Linked DNA regions of Homo sapiens: region 1 is linked to region 2. A link means that fine-mapping ties the variant in region 2 to the plasma level of a protein whose gene starts in the linked region. Region 2 holds a variant in brackets. A gene starts in the other region. All regions are shown on their reverse strands. Region 1 holds the start of REG3A (regenerating family member 3 alpha). Region 2 holds the start of RESF1 (retroelement silencing factor 1).

What was found. PIP is the posterior inclusion probability: the model's chance that the variant is causal. The UK Biobank Pharma Proteomics Project read protein levels with antibody pairs (Olink). The fine-mapping took linkage between variants from a reference panel, not from the people measured, so its PIPs are less certain.
Region 1: REG3A starts here. The variant in region 2 is fine-mapped to the plasma level of the REG3A protein (UK Biobank, PIP above 0.99).

Annotation. Positions count from the first base shown.
Region 1 is chr2:79,158,191-79,161,096 of GRCh38, reverse strand. REG3A (regenerating family member 3 alpha) reads left to right here and starts at 1,344. Exons shown (of 6, transcript NM_002580.3): 1 at 1,344-1,369; 2 at 1,658-1,767; 3 at 2,328-2,446; 4 at 2,634-2,771. The coding sequence starts at 1,692.
Region 2 is chr12:31,957,265-31,960,170 of GRCh38, reverse strand. RESF1 (retroelement silencing factor 1) reads right to left here and starts at 756. Exons shown (of 6, transcript NM_018169.4): 1 at 680-756. LOC105369725 (a long non-coding RNA gene) reads left to right here and starts at 867. Exons shown (of 2, transcript XR_931503.2): 1 at 867-1,043; 2 at 1,367-1,678. RefSeq lists a silencer at 446-785 and enhancers at 1,838-2,631, 2,635-2,906. The variant AAG/G (reference allele first, on the strand shown) is at 1,198.

The DNA.
Region 1 (2,906 bases), not on the chromosome of region 2:
TTTTTCCTGGACTGGCCAAACTGAACCTGAACCAGTGTATGGGCAATGTAGTATGCTTGTCAGAGGCACCAAACTGCTAACTCAAAAATAAACATGACTAAAAGAACTTCTCCCAGTATACCCATATGAAGCTGACCATTTGCCCAGTAAGAATGCAATGAAAAGGGCTTTTAATGTACAGCCAAATGGCAGTCCAGCAAGGAAGCTCATGAGCAACCTACAAGTAGTGAGCATTTTGATGTAATAGAGACTTACATGCAATTCAGAATTATGTTTACAACATCACAAAACAAAAATTTAGAGATAGGCTCTCACTCTGTTGCCTAAGCTGGAGTGCAGTGGGATGATCATAACTTACTGCAGCCTTGAACTCCTGGGTTCAACTGAAGGTCCTCCTACCTCAGCCTGCTGAGTAGCTAGGACCACAAGCACACACCACCGCAACTGGCTTAAATTAAAATATAAATTGTAGAGATAGGGTCTTAATGTGTTGCCCAGGCTGCTCTTGAACTCCTTGCTTCAGGTGATCCTCCCACCTCAGCCTCTCAAAGTGCTGGGATTATAGACCTGAGCCACAGCACCTGGCCAACTGACCTATGATTTTACACAATGGCTGCTCTTCCCTTCTTTAACTATTATTCATTCTTCTTTGATCCTCATTATTTGACTGTAGTCCTTCTTATGTCTTGTTTTCCTTCATTACCTCTTATTCTATCACATTGCCATTGTCATTCTCCACTGGGGAAGCTCTTTCTTGCTGAAGACTGGAAAGACAAGTCCATTCACCTGATTTTCTGTAAGATTGTGGCTCATGTATTGACTTGTCAGACAATTCTGAAGTTTCATCAAAATTAGCTATCATGCTTGCATAATGGCCCTGAACCCTCACTCCTACTCTTAGCTTCAGTACCATCTATGTCCTCAACTGTCCATGATACTTATAATTCCCGTAAATCTTCACTTAACACCTAACATTTATTTAATCTTACTAGGCAAGGTAATAAGAAATACATAGGTTTGCCTCCAGAAGTGGGTTCTTAAGAAACCCACCAGAGGAACTCCTCTTTCAGATGTCCACATTAGAAGATTTCATATCACATTTGGTGCCACAGGCCTTTGACAAGGAGGATGCAGAGGAAAAAGCAAACTTCACCTCTTCCTAGGGAAAGTGTTGGCCTGCCAACAGGAAAGAGGCAACATCTGGGAAAATCCCCAGTCTTTGCCAGGAAGAGTCCATGCCAACCCCACCCCATGACCCCTGTCCTGCCTACTCATTGTCACTCTTCACTCCAATGTCCCTCCCCCAGATCCTCTTATAAAATCCCACTCTTTCCTGACCAGACAAACCATACCATATCCCACCAGAGAGGTAAGTGGGAGCTGAGAGAAGATGAGACCCAGGGAGGAGCTACTGCACATGACACAGGAGAATACATGGGAGGGTCCCTTCCTCAGGGAGCACAGGAACTCTGAGACTCAGCAAGGGTGTCCTGGGAGGGCTCGGGGATGGGAGAGTACACAGATTCACAACTCATTCAGAACTGTAGAAGATGATGGATGTGACCAAGATCACTTTAGTCCTAGGGGACTAGAGAAGGAAAATGACATGAGGCAGTGGGGTATCTGTGTGTTCTCCCACTGACCACGCTTTCTTTAGTGACTCCTGATTGCCTCCTCAAGTCGCAGACACTATGCTGCCTCCCATGGCCCTGCCCAGTGTATCTTGGATGCTGCTTTCCTGCCTCATGCTGCTGTCTCAGGTTCAAGGTGAGATTGCTTTGCCTCTAGCACTGGGTTCCCTATGAATCCTCAGAGCTAACAAGAGGAGGAAGGCTCCTGTGTGTCATGTGAGGTAATGACGTGGTGTCTAATGAACCTGCCTGCAGTTCTTGCATCATCTCTCCTTCCTTCAGGTTAACTTGCAGTGGGAGGCTCCATGGTGGTCCACTAACAGTGGAATGAGATGGCTTCCATTTAGTCAGTGGACTCTAATATACACTGGTGGGAAAGTGGACTCTAATATACACTGGAGGGTCAGTAATGAGATGTGGGGAGGGACAATGATTGGAGGACCCAATGTAGAGACAGCCCAGAGTGAGGAGAGTATTGAATGGTTGAATAAGGGGAAAGGGTAATAAGAGACTGGATGGTGCTCCATTTACTACGGCTATTTTGAGATAAAGAATTTCTGAAAACATAAGGGAAGATGAAGGGGTGTCAGGAATGTGGTCTTCCTCCCCAAGGACATTCCTAGGTATTCCCCAAGGTCATCTCCCACCCCAAGCCCCACTCTTCATTTTACCCTCCCCCCTCTTCTTCCACCTCAGGTGAAGAACCCCAGAGGGAACTGCCCTCTGCACGGATCCGCTGTCCCAAAGGCTCCAAGGCCTATGGCTCCCACTGCTATGCCTTGTTTTTGTCACCAAAATCCTGGACAGATGCAGATGTGAGTGGTTAGATGTGGTGTTGGAGGTGACCGGTCTCAGGGGGAGGAGGGTCTCCATTCAGGAGAGTTCCTTGGGAATGAGGATGAACACGTTTATCTTTCACACAGTCCTCCTCCCACCTACCTTTGCCCTGCCCTCCCTCAGCAGGTCTCAGGCTCCCTCTCATTCTCTTTGTTGCCCTCAAAGCTGGCCTGCCAGAAGCGGCCCTCTGGAAACCTGGTGTCTGTGCTCAGTGGGGCTGAGGGATCCTTCGTGTCCTCCCTGGTGAAGAGCATTGGTAACAGCTACTCATACGTCTGGATTGGGCTCCATGACCCCACACAGGTGCCAGTATATCCTCCCCTCTCTGTTACCTCTCAAGGTGCTATTGTTGCCCAGGCCCACTCCCTGTCCCCTGTGCCTGCCCAGGAAGTACTTCAGGGAGCACTGGAGCTCAGATTCTGGGGAATATTTGGGGGG
Region 2 (2,906 bases):
CTCGAGAACACCTAAGATGGGTATGCGTTTGTGCATTTAAAAATGCCTCAAGGAACTATTGCTGAGGAACAGAAACCATCGCCGGCGCAGAAGCGTTCGCGGACCACTTGGAGATAGATGCCAGTACAGCAATTCTGTTCCAGGAGGCTTCGGCTTAAGAGGGCCGGGGAGGAGGAGAACCCTCGGGAAATAGCAAAAAAAAAAAAAGATTTTTCTTTTTCACTCCAGCGACAGGAAAGCCTTAAAAACATAAGCAGCTCTCATACCCACCCGCCTCACCAGCCGCGCCTCGCAGTTCGACAAAATGCGTCCTAGCCTTCGCCACTCGCGACCTCTACCGCGCAGAGCCAGGCAATGAGGGAAAACAGCCAGCGAGGCCCGCCCTCCGGTGCAAGGCTCGGCATCCGCGGAGGCCCAGGGCCGGCCCCGGTGCGGCGGGCAGAAGCAAGCGCGGCGGCCCGGCCCAGCTCCGGTGGGCGGACGGCGGGACGCGCGAGCCGGCGGGGCCCGAGGCCCGGGTTCCGGGGCCGCCCGCGACTGCGTCTTTGCCGCAGAACAAAAGCGCTCTGCGCCGCGCGCAGGCCCGGACCGCGAGTGCCTCTGGCTCCCGGCTCCCGGCCCCCGCCCCGCCCGGACCCCGGAAGGCGGAGGGACCTCGGGGTGCTCGTCTCACACTTACCGACAAAGGGAAGAGGACCACCCCGGCAAGCGGGGAGAAAACCGGCGGCCTCCCGGGCCCCAGAGTTTAAGTCAAGTGGGGTCCGCCTCCAGGGGCGGGTCGAGGAGCCAGGCCCAGGATCCAGGAACAGCTACGCTCCGCCTCACGCCCGAGGCGGTGGCTGCGAGGGCCGCGCCGCCGCGGTCCTAGTGCCACCAGAGAAGCCGCGGACCCGGCCCGCAGATAACACCCGGGCTTGCAGAGCGCTTTCATCTGCCCGACGCGGAAATCTCCTGCAGCGATCTTCTACCTTCAGCGTGCATCCGCAGCACCCAGAGGGCACGTTAAAGAGAGATTGAGAACCACCAGCAAAACTGCTGATTCAGTAGGTTTGGGGTGGGGCTGAAAAATGTGCATTTCTAACAAGTTCCTGAGACCGACTGTTGCTGCTGGCCTCAGGACCAATTTTTTCTATAAAGCGCATGGAAGTCAGAGTGCACCCAAGAGATTGTTAACCCTTAAAAAACAGAAAAAAAAAA[AAG/G]AAATCAACAAGTTAGAGGCAAATAAGTGTGAAAGAAAGTGGATAGTCTATTTGGGGATTCTGAAAGTCCCTGAGGAAAGTTGACTTTGGAGACCAGATCACGAAGCACGACCTCTTAATTGCCGACCTTTTGTTATAGATTAACTCCCTTATTTTCTTGTTCCCAGCTCAGACCAGATGGCATCTGAGATAAAATACGCATTGAATAAGATAAATGACCGCTTGACTATTACATCCTTAATGTGGAATGTTAAATAGACCCTTCCCAAAAAGAAACACTGCCTTGAACCAATCAAATTGCTATGCGTTAACCTTCTATGGAAAATGTTGACATCCTGTTAAGCTTCCCAGACCCTGCCTGTGTAAACGACCCTCAAACTTCTCCCTTTCGAAGCACTGACCCCCATCTTTTGGAGTCTGTGTCCTACCGGGTCGCCATCCTCAAACTTTGCACTCAAATAAACCAATATTTAATCATATTGCCCGAATCTCATTATTAAGGTTTACGTAAGCGTTTACTTAGTAATGAAGGTTGCAACCAGGATGGCAAATCAGAGATTGTGCCACTGGAGAGGGGCAAGGGAGCTTATGTTTATAGGAATTTATTTGTTACATAAATTGTCAGATTAGTTCATTGGTGAATTAAACGAAGAAGTCTTTAGTCATTACTAGAAGAGTGCGTTTGCGTCTGTCAGAAACAAAACAAAAAAACTACATACAGAATATTCTTTCTTTTTTGGGGGGGGGACGGAGTCACGCTCTGTCGCCCAGGCTGGAGTGCAGTGGCACGATCTCGGCTCACTGCAAGCTCCGCCTCCCAGGTTCACGCCATTCTGCTGCCTCAGCCTCCCAAGTAGCTGGGACTACAGGCGCCCGCCACCATGCCCGGCTAATTTTTTGTATTTTAGTAGAGACGGGGTTTCACCATGTTAGCCAGGATGGTCTCGATCTCCTGACCTCTTGATCCGCCCGCCTTAGCCTCCCAAAGTGCTGGGATTACAGGCATGAGCCACCGCGCCCGGCCAGAATATTCTTAAAGATTGGGGGTGGCCAGGTGTGGTGGCTCAGGCCTGTAACCCCAGCACTTTGTGTCACGCGCATCCGTGTGAAGAGACCACCAAACAAGCTTTGCGTGAGCAACAAGACTGTTTATTTCACCTGGGTGCAGGCGGGCTGAGTCCGAAAAGAGAGTCAGCAAAGGGTGGTGGGATTATCTTTAATTCTTATAGGTTTTGGGAGAGGCTCCGCGGAACAATGTTTTGCGGGCAGGGGGTGGATCTCACAAAGTACATTCTCAAGGGTGGGGAGAATTACAAAGAACCTTCTTAAGGGTGGGGGAGATTACAAAGAACCTTCTTAAGGGTGGGGAGAATTACAAAGAACCTTCTTAAGGGTGGGGGAGATTACAAAATACATTGATCTGTTAGGATGGGGCAGAAACAAATCACAATGGTGGAATGTCATCAGTTAAGGCTATTTTCGCTTCTTTTGTGGATCTTCAGTTGCTTCAGGCCATCTGGATGTATACGTGCAGGTCACAGGGGATATGATGGCTTAGCTTGGGCTCAGAGGCCTGACAGTTTGGGAGGCTGAGGTGGGTGAATCACTTGAAATCAGGAGTTTGAGACCAACGTGACCAACATGGTGAAACCCTGTTTCTACTAAAAATATAAAAATTAGCCAGGCGTGGTTGTGGGCACCTGTAAT